2 linked regions of the Homo sapiens genome follow. The protein of the gene in region 1 interacts with the protein of each later gene in a pairwise test. Each region holds a gene or a part of one and is shown in the gene's direction. Other genes may lie near its edges.

The links.
Region 2: the proteins of ZNF618 (region 1) and TBC1D13 interact in binary tests that used the Homo sapiens proteins (3 or more experiments, as listed by UniProt).

The regions. Positions count from the first base shown.
Region 1 is NC_000009.12:113,879,308-113,886,416, forward strand, and holds part of ZNF618 (zinc finger protein 618), read left to right. Parts: intron 1-7,109. UniProt on the Homo sapiens protein: Regulates UHRF2 function as a specific 5-hydroxymethylcytosine (5hmC) reader by regulating its chromatin localization.
Region 2 is NC_000009.12:128,804,253-128,810,930, forward strand, and holds the end of TBC1D13 (TBC1 domain family member 13), read left to right. Parts: intron 1-1,606; coding exon 1,607-1,767; intron 1,768-2,001; coding exon 2,002-2,059; intron 2,060-3,561; coding exon 3,562-3,627; 3' UTR 3,628-6,178; downstream 6,179-6,678. UniProt on the Homo sapiens protein: Acts as a GTPase-activating protein for RAB35. Together with RAB35 may be involved in regulation of insulin-induced glucose transporter SLC2A4/GLUT4 translocation to the plasma membrane in adipocytes.

The DNA.
Region 1 (7,109 bases):
TTCCATTCTGCTGAAATTTTGTTCTGTTGTCTATGGCTAGAAGTTGAAAATCATTTCTGGTTTTGTAGAACTGTTTTTTTTTTTTTTCTGTTTTTTTTTTTTTTTTAAATTGGTTATTCTGATCATGTTTGTTGTAAAGGAAGTAGAGGTGCATGATGGTTCTATTGGGGGCGGGGCCAGTTTTCTTTTGTTTCTATTGGTGTCTCTCTCTGGATTGAGATCTGACCTTGGCCTTGGCTCTCTCACCTCCTATTTTAGGTGGACGTGTGACCAGAAATGGACATGTGAGCTAATTTTTATTAGCTCCTGTCTGTTCACCACATTCTCGTAGATTATTGGGCAAAATATCTGGCAAATTGGACTTGGGGGTGGTAATTTGATGATGGGCTGAATTATTTTGGCGAAAGATCGTTTATATTCAGTTTCACAGTGGAGACTCTTATTACTTAATGTTTTGCTTTTCTGCCTAAGGAGGTTTTTTTTTTTTTTTAATTTTTTCTAACAAGGTTTGAAATTTCAAGGGCCTGCTTTATAGTTTGACTTTGGAGCAAGCTAGGAAAAGAGGTTTGCTTATACTTCCAGCTCTGCACAGAGGTGAACTTGAACAAGGGTTCTTGCTTTTGCAGAACGAAAGCAACAAAGATGGCTGGTCAGTATAAGGCTGACCTCTCCCTCGTCCTAGAAAATAAACAGCCAATGGCTTGTTTCACTTGAGAAACTGGGTTTTAAAACTCCTCCAGTGTCAGATACAATATTTTTCTCACTTTTGACTCAGCTCTTGGCATGCTGCTTCCTCTGACCTCAGAATCCTTACGTCTTCTCCTTGGTGGGTGATAAGAACTTCCTTGCCATATATGACTGATGTATATAAGCCGACTTCTCATGGTCATGAGGAAATTTTGAATTTTTTCCATGTTCTTGTGATGTTTTGGGTCAGTTGTACCTTCTTTCTGGTGATGTAAAATGAAGTGGCTCTTTTCAGGAGCCCTAGCCCCCACAAGGTCTTGCTGTGTGACCTTGGACAAATCACTTTTTCCTTCAGAGCCTCAATTTTTGCATTTATAAAATGAACACTTGGGATCAGATCAAGGATAATAATAAATAGGTTTCATTTCTGATTGTAACTCCAAGGAATTGGTTATGGCTGCCTGGATCACTGTGTTGAGAAGGATTCTGAGGCCATATCCCGACTCCCATATTCTAGAGAGAGGGGTGCAGTGGCCAAACAGCATTGTAAATCAGAGTGGAGAGTGTACCTCTTAGTTACCATTCCCAGGCGAGACCTTGAATCATGGGCCATTAGTGGCCTGTGAAGTCAATTTAGTGAATCACAATCAGAATTTTTTAAAAACAAGAATAGACTAGAATATAGGGGAACAAAAAATAGCAGAGGCATACCACAGGGTACAGGTGAGTATCCTCTCATGAAACTTGTATTTATATTTGTGGATGTATGTGTGTGATTTGAAATAGATTTCCTCCTGTGGGTCACGGCCAAAAGAGTTTGAAAGGTACTGGACTAGCTGAACCGCCATGATGTGCTGCAGGTATACTGCACTTTATTGCTTATACTTTATTTTTGCATTTATTATCTCAATTAACTTTTAGGTGAACCCTGTGGGTTAGGTGTCCTGTGCCACATATTTTGAGCCCTGGTTGAGCCCACTTCAAGGGCCACATATGAAGAAAGCTCAGCCACATGGGCAGCCCAGGCACATACCCCAGCTTGTTGGCCTTGGATGAGTCTGGAAGGACATATGGAAAGGCAGATACAAGTTTGAAGGCAGCGTCTTTGCAAGGTCTTCTTGCTGGAGAGGAGATCTAAAGTGTGTGGAGTCCTTGTCTTTTGTTCCCCACTTTTAGTTTAAATTGCCAGAGAAATTTTTCTGGAGTTAGAGAGTCTGTGTTTGTGCTATATTTAATTTAATCAGACAAAAACACAGTCTGTATTTTTGTGTGTGTGCACTTCCTTAAAAATCCCAGAATTTCTGTCTTAGTCTCCTCATCTTTTAAATGTGTCAGGTCAGCGCTAATAGAAATATAATTCAAGCCCCCGTTGCGAGCCACATATATAATTTTTAATTTTCTCACAGTGTATTAAGGAAAGTAAAAGAAACGGGTGCCATTGATTTTAACATATTTAACTCAGTATATCCATAATACTATCCTTTCATCAAGCCATCCATATGAAAATTATTAATGTGACAAGTTACAGTCTTTTGCGGGGGTGCTATTGAGTCTTTGAAATCTAATGTATTTTACTCCTACAGTACATCTCAATTCTGACCAGCCACATTTCACCTGTTCAGCAGCCACATGTGGCTGGTGGCTACTATATTGGACAGCTCAGGTTTGGACCAGTTGTCGTCATCACTGGCTGGCCCCAGAAGGGTAGCAACACCTTTCAGACCTCTTGGTTTTGTTGGTGAGACTTCCTATCAGAATCTCACATGCTCTGAGGCATTTCAGCCTGTAGTGATGATGAGTTCCATCCATATAGCTCTCCTGGCTAGAGTAGCCCACATTTCCCTTTTATTTGTCCCAACGCAGACTTCTGCCAGGGTTAGGCCACTGTGCTGTAGTTAAAAATGACAAATGATGGCTAGTAACTCCGGGATGATGTGTTGCAGCCTGTGAGCTGTTGAAGTCAAGGAGTGTGAGTCCGGGAGGCTGTTGCTTTTTGAAGTGCATTTTAAATAAAGTGTTGCCAGAGAGAAGGATGAAGTTGCAAAAAGGCAGCAGGTGGCCAGGACCAGGGCTGGGGTCTGAGGAGAGGAAGGAGATCAGAGGTAAAAGATGGCCTGGCAATGAAATCTATTTCTGAGCCAAAAACATGGCATCAGCAGGAAATCCCCCCAGGCCAGGCCTTAGGTCAGATGCATAGAGATTTTCCGAATCCACCCCAATTGGGAAAATGGAAAGCTGGGTTTGAGGTCTGCCAGACCAGAGTTTGAAATCCAGCCTCATGGTGTGGTTAGCTTTGTGTGACTTCGGGAAAGTCACTCTGGTTCTGGAACCACAGCTTCTACATCTGGGAAAAGAGGGTTAATGATCCCAGCCTTGCAGGGTTGTTTTAGGATTAAATGAAGGGGTCACATGTGGAGACTCTCAGCCGGTCTGAGGGCCTGAGTAGGTGGTCGACGCATGTGAGTTGACTCAACCCAGTGGCCAGGGATTCTCCATTTGGGGAGATTAAGTCCCACTGACAACACTTGGGGTAGTCCTGGAAACCTGGTGGCTTATCGTTAGCAGGCAAAGTTAGGCGACAAGTGAGAATGTACACTCTTGGCTGTTGCTTTAAAACAGCCTGCCATCCATGAGACTTTCTTGTTAAAGCATTCTGGATGCTTTCATTCCGGGGCTGCTCTAGCTCCTTGGAATGTTTCTGGATTTGTTTCTGAGCCTGTGGCAAGGCTTTAAAAGGGATACATCTCAATCGCGGGTGGACCTGTATGTCTTTGAGCTTCTGCTCATGCTGGGGCCCTTGCCTCTGGTGCCCCTTCCCTCATTCATATCTGCTTCGTGAGAAACCAGACCCTCCTCGAGATCAGCTGCACTTCTTCTTCTGTAGAGCTCCCCCAACAAATTTCCCCAGGTAGGCTTCCTCTCCCTCTGCCCCCATGGTACCTCCCAAACAATGTGGACCCACAGGTCAGAGTTGGTTGTTTGCATTTCTGCTTCTCCAGCCAACTTGTAACATCTGTGAGGGTAGAGATCACCGGTTATTCATTTTAGGGTCTGGCGCAGAGCAGCAGCTCCATAAATATTTGATGACTTCATTTGATTTTTGGAAATAGCTCAGATCAGTGGGCTTTGGGTCTAGTGAAGAGTGGATGACCAATTTGGGCTTGGCCATTTGGTCAAAGCCAATGTTTTATTAGGGAGCCCGAGGCACATTTTCTTACAGCTGGCTCTGAAGCCATGGCTCCCCTGGAATAATAAGTCCAACAGGGATCCTTAGTTGGGGAAATGCTCCTTTACATGTCTTGGGGGATTTTTAAAATGTTCGTCTGATGACTTTCACCCCTGCCCTCCTCACTCCTTTTGTATAAAGTATTTCTTTAAAGTGGATGGGGGACCCCCAGATGCCTGATTTGCAGGTATGGTGAATGGGGCATAGCAGTGCCCTGTATTTATGCCTGGTCTTCTTAGCCAGGTGTCCTGGAACTGAACACCAGGGGCCTGTTTGCAGAATATCCAGGCACACGGGCTCCTTCAACTTGAAGCACCTAAATGTGTGATGTGACCCCATTTTTGGTTGAATTTTGGTTTGCAGATGTCAAAGATTCAAGGAAAATTTATGGGAGAAAACAGAACCTTCTGTTTCTTGGCTTAGTTTTTTTCAGCACGTTTTATAAAATGCTGTCATTTTTAACACTTTGTGGCCAATTTCAGCAAGCAAGCATAGAATCCTAAGTTAAGGTAGACATCGATCCTCAGTGTTCATATTCCCACGTTTCCATATTTCTGAAATCAGGATGCCCCTTACAGTAGATTTGTTCTTCTAGTGAACTTTTTCTCCCTCTTATTTCTTCTCCAAAAGCTGTTATAAAATCGATGGTGCATCTATCAGTTGAAAGCATCTTGGGATTGAGTGTTGTTGTCCTCCTGGTGGGGAGGACTATGACCTGTGGGGGCTCCATGCTCTGTTTACCTCACTTTTCTCTGGGCTTGGCCCCCCCCCCCCCCCCCCCCGCCCTGTACAGTGAAGGCAGGACTTCACCTTGGGAAGAAACATCTGGAACTCTGACTTAGTCCTACTTTCCTGCCATGTCTGTGTGTAGGTTTTGTAATTTTGCTGTGGCCTCTCTAAAAGGGGCAAGTAGCCCGTGGGAGGGAGGTGAAGTCCTGTAAATGGGGGAGGGGGGTCTCTTCAGTACAGCCACATGCATGAGCTGGCCCGACAACAGCGGAGCACCAGTTTGACATTTCCAAGGGTAGAATGAGCAGAGCATAGTCGGAGAGCCAAGGCACGGCTCCCCTCTCTGCTCCACCAGTTAATCATTTTGTGGTGTTTGCCAAAGTACTTCATTTCCTTGCACCGTATTTTCCTTACCTGTAAAGGTGAGATGATAATATATTGATGATGATGATTGAAGATGATGATGCATAGGGTTCTTGTGAAAGTTGTGAGAGATGTAAGAAAAAAGTTTTGTAAAGGGCAAAGTTCTTTTCACTTGCAGCATGTTATTTGTGCATCATCTAGTCCAAGGATGGTAAATAAGTAGCATACATGCTGCCATTCCCCATCCTCTAGCCTGTGGCAGACATCACTAATTGACCATGGTAGTCCTTTCCATTGAGTATGGCCAGCGGCCTCAGAGTCCTTAGTATTATATAATGCTACCCATCAGTTGGGCTTAGATGGGACATGAAGCCAGTTTGTCCTTCCTTATCGACACACACACACACGCACCCCATGGGACATGAAGCCAGTTTTTCCTTCCTTATCGAGACACAAACACACAGAGAGAGAGAGAGAGAGAGAGAGAGAGAGAGAGAGAGACAGAGAAACTGAGGCCTTGGGAAGAAGGTGGAGTGACTTACCCAAGACCTCAGTGAACAAGCGGAAGTGGGACTAAAAGCCTCAGATTTCTTCACTCCTCAACCAGTGCTTTTCCTGCCCTGTGTGTATACACTGTATCAAAAGGAATTAAAATTAATTTGGTCTTGAGAAATAGCGAGAGAATCCTGACTCCTCCCTTCCCTGTTATAATTAGATACCCTTGGGGTTGTCATCAAAGCAGGGCTGGATGACCTGCTTCTCTGCCTGATCCTGGAGTGATCAGGTTTCAAAGGGGAGACGCCTGTGGCTAGGCAGCTGGATTGGATGGTGTCTCTCAGCAGTGTAAGTGACGTGGCAGTGGGGCAAGGCAGGCCCTGGGGTTCCTGGATGATGACCTGGGTTTGGGACAGGTTTGCTGCTTACACACTTTCAAGTCCACAGACAAGTTCTTTAGTCCTTCCGTATCTTAATTTCTGCATCTGAGAAATGGGCTGGTAATGATTCTTCACAGGAATGACATAAGATAACAAGTTTGAAAATGCTTTGTAAACTCTTGACATACATGTTACTTTTTAAATACACGTTACTTTTTATAACTAGTACGAATTATTAGTGCTATGCTGGGTAAGTTGTGTAAACTGAGTCACAGACTAAGGGCCACAAGATGAGTGGGTCCCTTCTCTTGTATGTTATTTTATCTTTTTGCCAGCCCAGGGTTCAGAAAGTTTGGAGTTTGTGAGTCTTTCACAGATTCTTTCCTGTTTGCATCTGTCCCCAGCCTCATCCTGTTTCAATCATGTATGTGGCCTGCCTAGCCCTGGAAGGCCTTGGGGTCTGGGACCCCGACACAGCCTCTACTTGTTCATCTGTTTAGTGGGAGGACAGGCCATCCTTAAACCCTTCCAGGCTTTTTGAAAGCATCGTATGAGTTAATGGACTAGAAAGTGCTTCATGAACAGCAAAGAACTGGAGAAACATGTTGGCGACAACTCCTTTCTTAAAAAGGAAAGGAGGAAGGCTGAGGTGAGGATGGTATTGAGTCGACAAAAAAGTGATATAAATATTTTGGCTGACAAAGCAGAATGAGGCTTTCTATATAAGCTAAAGCGAATAAATGGAGTCAGGTGATGCTTGGCCCCCCAGTCTGCTATAGAAAACACAGGGAAAAACATTGCTTTCTAGTGAAGTGAGCCCTTTGTCAGGGGTGAATCTTTGATTACCAGGGGTCAGCCCTGTTCCTGGGTGAGGACCCAGGGAGGAATGAAACCTGGTGTCTCCCCCAGGGGTGGAAATGGCTCCTGCAAAGTGGAGGAGGCCTGAGTATCTCTTGGCAAGTCCCTGGCTCGCAGTTTGCTGGTAGCACTCAAAGTCAAAAGTGCTTTTGGCTTGCTTACTGGATGTGTTACTGTCCAAGACAGCATATCTGAGGAGCTAGCCATTCTTACCTCTCAGCTTTGAGCCTGTGCCATACAAATTCCTGCCTGTCCCAACATTTTTGTGGAAAATTGGGGGACTAAGGGTGGGAATTTTTGTCAGGTGAAAGTTTGCAGAGAATTTGTGTTTTGTTTTATTTTGGACTCAGAGTTTTTGCAAGCGAAGAAGA
Region 2 (6,678 bases), about 15 Mb from region 1:
ACCCATGTGCTGAGGCAGCTGATGGTGGAGCCCAGCTGGGAGGGAAGGGGAAAGTTGAGAATGGTGCCCATTGTGTGCCAGGCATACTGCAGGGCATTTACTATGAACTAAATTGGTTAAGCTGTTAGTAGTCTTCTGAGGTAAGTGTTAACTTCATTTTTTTTTTTTTTTTGAGATGGAGTCTCGCTCTGTCGCCCAGACTGGAGTGCAGTGGCACAATCTCGGCTCACTGCAAGCTCCACCTCCCAGGTTCATGCCATTCTCCTGCCTCAGCCTCCCAAGCAGCTGGGACTACAGGCACCCGCCACTGTGCCCGGCTAATTTTTTGTATTTTTAGTAGAGATGGAGTTTCACTGTGTTAGCCAGGATGGTCTTGATGATCTCCTGACCTCGTAATCCACCCGCCTCGGCCTCCCAAAGTGCTGGGATTACAGGCATGAGCCACCGTGCCCAGCCCTTTTTTTTCTGTTTTTTTTTTTTTTTTTTTTTTTTTGAGAAGGACTCTCTCTCTCAGAGGCCAGGTTGGAGTGCAGTGGTGCAATCTCAGCTCACTGCAACCTCCGCCTCCCAGGTTCAAGCAATTCTCATGCCTCAGCCTCCCCAGTAGCTGGGATTACAGGCGTGCGTTACCACGCCTGGCTAGTTTTTGTATTTTTAGTAGAGATGGGATTTCGCTGTGTTGGCCAGGCTGGTCTCGAACTCCTGACCTCAAGTGATCCGCCTACCTCCCTCTCCCAAAGTGCTGGGATTACAGGCATGAGCCACTGTGCCTGGCTGGCCAGGAATAATGATATCTTTTTAAACAAATATGGGTTGAGTGTGATGGCTCACAGTTGTAATCCTAGCACTTTGGGAGACTGAGGCGGGAGGATCGCTTGAGCCCAGAGGTTGAGCAACATAGTGAAGCTTTGTCTCTACAAAAAATTTAAAAACAAATTAGCCAGGCATGGTGGCACAGGCCTGTAGTCTCAGCTACTCGGGAGGCTGAGAGAGGAGCCCTCGAGGTCAAGGCTGCAGTGAGCCATCCATGATTGTGCCACTGCACTTCAGCCTAGGCAATATAGCGAGACCTCATCTCTAAAAAAAAAAGGAAGTATGCTTTTGCTGTTTTGTAGCATGCTTTTTCAGTTAATATTCACTGTGGCTGACCAGAAGGCTTGTCTCTACTGGGAATAATTGCCTGTGGAATTGTTCTGTGGATTAAATGAGTGAGAGGACATATTTAATATTCTAAGCATAGCCCAGGCTTTTAGTAAGTGCCCTGTGATGGTCACTCAGCACATCCACAAACCCAAGGCTATCATCTGCAAAGTGTGTGAAAAGAGTTTGAGCCATCATTTATAAATCTGGAGAGCTTATTATATAAAGGTTTGGGTTTCCAGCTTCTCTTTAAAAAATAGGAAGATCTGAGGATGTTGGCTGGCAGCAAACAGGCTCCGCCCCTTTACCAGGCAAGGCTGTCCGGCAGCCTGGTGCCAGCCCTGGTGCTCACACCTGGCATGCTGGGCCCTGCTGTTCTGAATTCACTTCTGACCCACTGCGTGGTGCTCCATGGCCGGCAGCCAACACAGAGTCATGCCCCCCACCCCCCACGCTGTCTCCCCAGCAAGAGCAGAACATCAAGCCTCAGTTCTTTGCCTTCCGCTGGCTGACACTGCTGCTGTCCCAGGAGTTCTTGCTGCCTGACGTCATCCGCATCTGGGACTCCCTCTTCGCCGATGACAACCGCTTTGACTTCCTCCTCCTCGTCTGCTGCGCCATGCTCATGTGAGTGCGGGCATGAGCTGTCATCAGCTCACCTGGGCAGTCCTTGGAGAAGCCAGACAGGAGGACCCTCCGCCCCGAAGGGTGGGCAGGGCTGCTCTTTCATGGCTGGAGTGGGATTCTGGAGTCCTTGGGAGGGCGACAAACCAAACTTGAGGTGGGTAGGGAGGGAGGAGTGGGCAGGGCCTGCACTCAGAGCATCCCAGGTCCCAGCGCTTTTGCTGCTGCTTTTCATAGGCTGATCCGGGAGCAGTTGCTGGAAGGGGACTTCACTGTGAATATGCGGCTGCTGCAGGTAATGGGAGTTGGGGGCAGGCTCAGCCACTGCCATGAGGCTGGCACTCGCCAGGCACCTGCCCACGCCAGCTGCTGCGACAGGCTGGGCAGGGGCAGCGGAGTGTAGTAGGGATTAAAGTCCAGACCCCTGAGCAGATCTGGTTTGGATCTGGGTTTGAATCCTGGTTCTGCCACTGACCTGGAATGTTGGGTGGCCTTGAGCAAGTGACTTGGCCTTCAAACCGTGTACTCTACGTAGGTGTTCACACCTAGGACACAGCAGGTGCCCAGAACATGGCCGTGCTTGCTGGTGGCCATGCTCAGGCCCGGGGAAGGAGGGTGGGGTGTAGTGATTAAGAACATGGGCTCACCGGGCGCGGTGGCTCATGCCTATAATCCCAGCACTTTGGGAGGCTGGGGTGGGTGGACCACCTGAGGTCTGGAGTTCAAGACCAGCCTGGCCAACATGGCGAAACCCCGTCTCTACTAAAAATACAAAAATTAGCCGGGCTTGGTGGCATGCACCTGTAATTCCCAGCTGCTTGGGAGGCTGAGGTAGGAGAATCACTTTAACTTGGGAGGTGGAGGTTGCAGTGAGCCAAGATCGCATCACTGCACTCCAGCCTGGGGGACAGAGCAAGACTCTGTCTCAGAAAAAAAGAACATGGGCTCAAGGGCCTACAGCTTTAGGTCCACAGTTTTGCTCTGCTGTGCTCATCATGTGACCCAAGCCAAGTTACAGCATCTCTGGGTCTCAGCTTCTTCACCAGCACGTGGCCTTAGTGTTGCTTTGTTGTTGTTTTTTTTTTTTTGAGACAGAGTCTCGCTCTGTTGTCCAGGCTGGAGTGCAGTGGTGCAATCTCGGTTCACTGCAACCTCCACCTCCCAGGTTCAAGTGATTCTCCTGCCTTAGCCTCCCGAGTAGCTGGGATTACAGGTGTGTGCCACCACGTCTGGCTAATTTTTGTACCTTTAGTAGAGACAGGGTTTCACCATCTTGGTCAGGCTGGTCTCGAACTCCTGACCTCAGGTGATCCGCCCACCTCAGCCTCCCAAAGTGCTGAGATTACAGGTGTGAGCCACCAAGCCCAGCCTAGAGTTGCTTTTCCCTAACTTCATGGACCAGATCTGGAAAAAGTGCAGAATCACAGTGGCCACTCACAGGGCTGTTGGGACTTCGCGCTGATGCTCAGACACTGGCCCAGTCCTACTGGCTCCACACGAGGGAGCTCGGGTTCAGTGGCAGTAGTGGGAGAGCTGAGGCAGCACGGTCTGGTCCTGAGGAAAGGGCCGCAAGAGCCTGGGAGTGGTTGTGTTTGGATCGTTGAGTTGGTGCTGCATGGTGTAGCGTCAGCTGCATGCAGGGGTCTGGGGGTTGGGGAGTGTGGGATGCCTGGTGTTCTGTGCTCCTGCCCCTGAGGCCCAGGATCCAGCATGGCAACGGGTCCCAGCAGGGAGGGTGTGGGTGTGGCAGGGGTGAAGTGGCTTCAGAGGCAACTGTTGGCCTTTTCCTGTGCCCAGGACTACCCCATCACAGATGTCTGCCAGATCCTGCAGAAAGCCAAGGAGCTCCAAGACTCAAAGTAGCCCGGCGGCAAGAGGCCCATGTTCCGGAGAGAAGCCTCCCGACCCTGTGCCCTGGCTCCCGGGACACATAGAAACCTGTAGGAACCCAGCCTGAGGGGAAGCCACAGGATCGGCCCGAGACCCAGGCCATGCCCACTGGGGACACACTGTGCCGTGCTCCTTCTGCCGCCACGCCCAGCTCCCCACCTGCCCTGCACTCTGCCCTCTTTGCCCAGGATACTGAGGAGGGCTGGAGCTCGGGAAGTTGTCCTTCCTGGGCCAGGGCCGTTTCTGGCACTGGGAGGCTGGCAGGGGCCCCTCCCTGCCTCGGCTCTGCCGCCCCAGCCTCAGTTCCTGCTTCTGGTCTTCTCCTGGGCTCCACTCAGGGGAGGTGCTTGGCCAATGGGCCAGAAACCGCTTCTGAGCGGGGCACTTCGGCTGCTCCACAGGGAAGGCGACACTGAAAGCTGAGTCCTGCCGTCTGTCTCACCCACAGATGTCTGTAGTCGGTCGGTGTGAATGTGGGCCCAAGTCCCCAGGCATCTTCTCCGTGTGTGTGTGTGTGTGTGTGTGTGTGTGTGTGTGTGTGTGTGTGTGTTAGGGAGTGAGGGTCTCTCAGGCCTCCAGGTCTCCCAGCCCCTCCTTCTCTGTCTCTACCTCTCTGCCTGTCTCCTTCCACCTCCTTCCCAGAGTGGGACTGTGTCTTGCTTCATGATTCCTCTCTCCATTACTCTCCCTGCCCTTCTCTGTTGGGGTGCCTTATCCTGAGCCACCTCCTCTCCCCGCTTGCCTCTGCTCCCCTGAACCTGGGAGACAGATGAGGAGACTGGCTCAGCAAGGCCCCTGGAGGTCAAGCTTGGCCTTTGCCTCCTGTTCCCATCCCCCAGCCCTGGCTCCTAGGTCCTCCCAACTGGGAGGGAGTCCTCCGTGCCTCACTTAGAGGGTTCTGAACCCGTTCCCTACACAGAAATCTTGGAAACCAAATGCTGCTGAGTAAGGATGAAGCTTTGAGCCTCCTGCCCCTGCTTTCTGCCCAGGGAGGGAGAAGGAAGAGGGGGAGCTGGTTTTTCTGGAGGTTCCCCCAGAGGCCCTCCTGTCCGAAAAGAAAAGGACCTTGATTCTGAGCCCAGGGTCGGAACCCATTGCTTCAGAAGAGTTGTCATTCCCTCGGCTTCCAGGTCCCAACCCAGGGTTGGGTTGAGTGAGTCCCACAAAGGGCAAGTGGGGCCCGAGGAAGCCTCTCTGGGGCCAGGGGTAGCTGAGCTTAAAGGCCCTGGGTCCTGCCAGTTCCAGGAGGGCCATGTCTGTGCCTCTGTGTACCCCTCCACCCGCTGCGGGCTGAGGGAGGTGCAGGGCCTTCTCTGACCCCTGCCTGAGCTGTTCCCAGGGCTGGAGCAGGTGTACCCTGAGCAGGGGCAGCTGGCCACTCCCAGTTCTCACCAAGTCACCTCCCTCCTTGTACAAGGTTTGCGTCCGGAAGCCGGGTGCCATAGTGAGGACCCTCGTCCTCCAGACTGGCTGGCAGGAGTCAGGCCCCAGCAGCCCTCCTGCCCCCAAAGCTTTCCGAGTCTGGTGGGCAGGACTTCTCGCTGCCCTTCCAAGCCCGGCTTTGGGCCAGGAAAGGCTTCCCCAGGTGGCTCTTCTACCAGGCTTTTCCTTTGATGCCGCCTGGATTTCCGCACCTGCCTGTCTCCTCTCCCAGAGCACAGTATTTGGGAGACTTTGACTATTTATTCAGACTCCTGGCTATGTATTGCACATTGGCAAGTGCTCTGGGGATGAGGCATGGGTATAGGAAGGGAGAAAGGAGTTGGAGACAAGATCCTCTTCATTTTCCAAGATCAAAGTCAGCCTCTTCTCCCCATGCTTCTAGGAACTGCCTGGTTTTCGAGCAGGTCCTGGCTGAGCGGGCTCTGAGTTCTGTACTGGAATTGAGTGTAAAGATGGGAAGAGAACTGGGCTGACTCCAGGACCTCCAGGATGAGGCAGAGGCATGATGCTTCCTGCTCACCTGGGCCACCCTCTCTCCAGGACTTGTCAGCTGGTGGTTCAGCCCCTTCTCCAACCCCTTCATAAGCTTGGGCCACTGCCTGGGACCCAGCAGACACTGCCCAGGACTCTTTAGTGCACTCACTCTTGTCTGCCCCCTACCTTCCCTCCTGGAACCACACTACTTGAATCACCATTACTTTGCCTCGCTGGCAGAGTTGGGTCAAGTGCCCTCTCCTTGACCTTGAGATGAAGGTCAAGAGCACAGGGACCAGGCCTTGGTTAGGCTGAGCTCCCAGCAGGACACCGCCTGCAGAAAGGACCTGCCCTGATAATGTCCCTTCCCCAGATTCTCAAGCAGATGCCCAAGGGAGGTCCCCACAGAGCCAGAGTGCCTGAGGCTTCCTGCTTGAGAACCTGCCCCCTGGATCTTGGACACTTACAGATTGAGCTGTATGAATTCAGCGGGTCTCACTCCAGAGGGTCAGAACGTTTGCTTTAGTTTTTTCATCTGTTTTGTTCCTTGAGTCAGTGCTGTTGATGACGAGTTGTCTTGAATAAATCATGTGTTCTTTGCAATGGGCATTGGTGCTGTGATGAGCTGAAACTTTGGAGACCTCAGAACAGGGAAAAATGAACAGGGATGGAGTCAGAGTCTCTTAGAGTAGCCCTTCTAAGAAAAGGTCCAGGAAATCCTTCTGGGAAGAGCCTGTTGGATTCTTCCAGTTCAGCCTCAGCAGTCTGCAGCTGGGGGAGGAGGGAGTGAGTACTGGCTAAGGAGGTTCTGCATACATGATTACATAGCCTGTTATTTTTCAGATTTAAAAAAGCTTAGACCATCCATTATATGTGGAAAAAGCATTTGACAAAATTCAACATCTTTTCCTTATTTTTAATTTAATTTTATTTTCTTTGAGACGGGGTCTTGCTCTGTCACCCAGGCTGGAGTGCAGTGGCACGATCTCCACTCACTGCAACCTCCGCCTCCTGGGTTCAAGCGATTCTCCTTCCTCAGCCTCCCAAGTAGCTGGGATTACAGGTGCCCGCCACCACACCTGGCTAATGTGTATTTTTAGTAGAGAC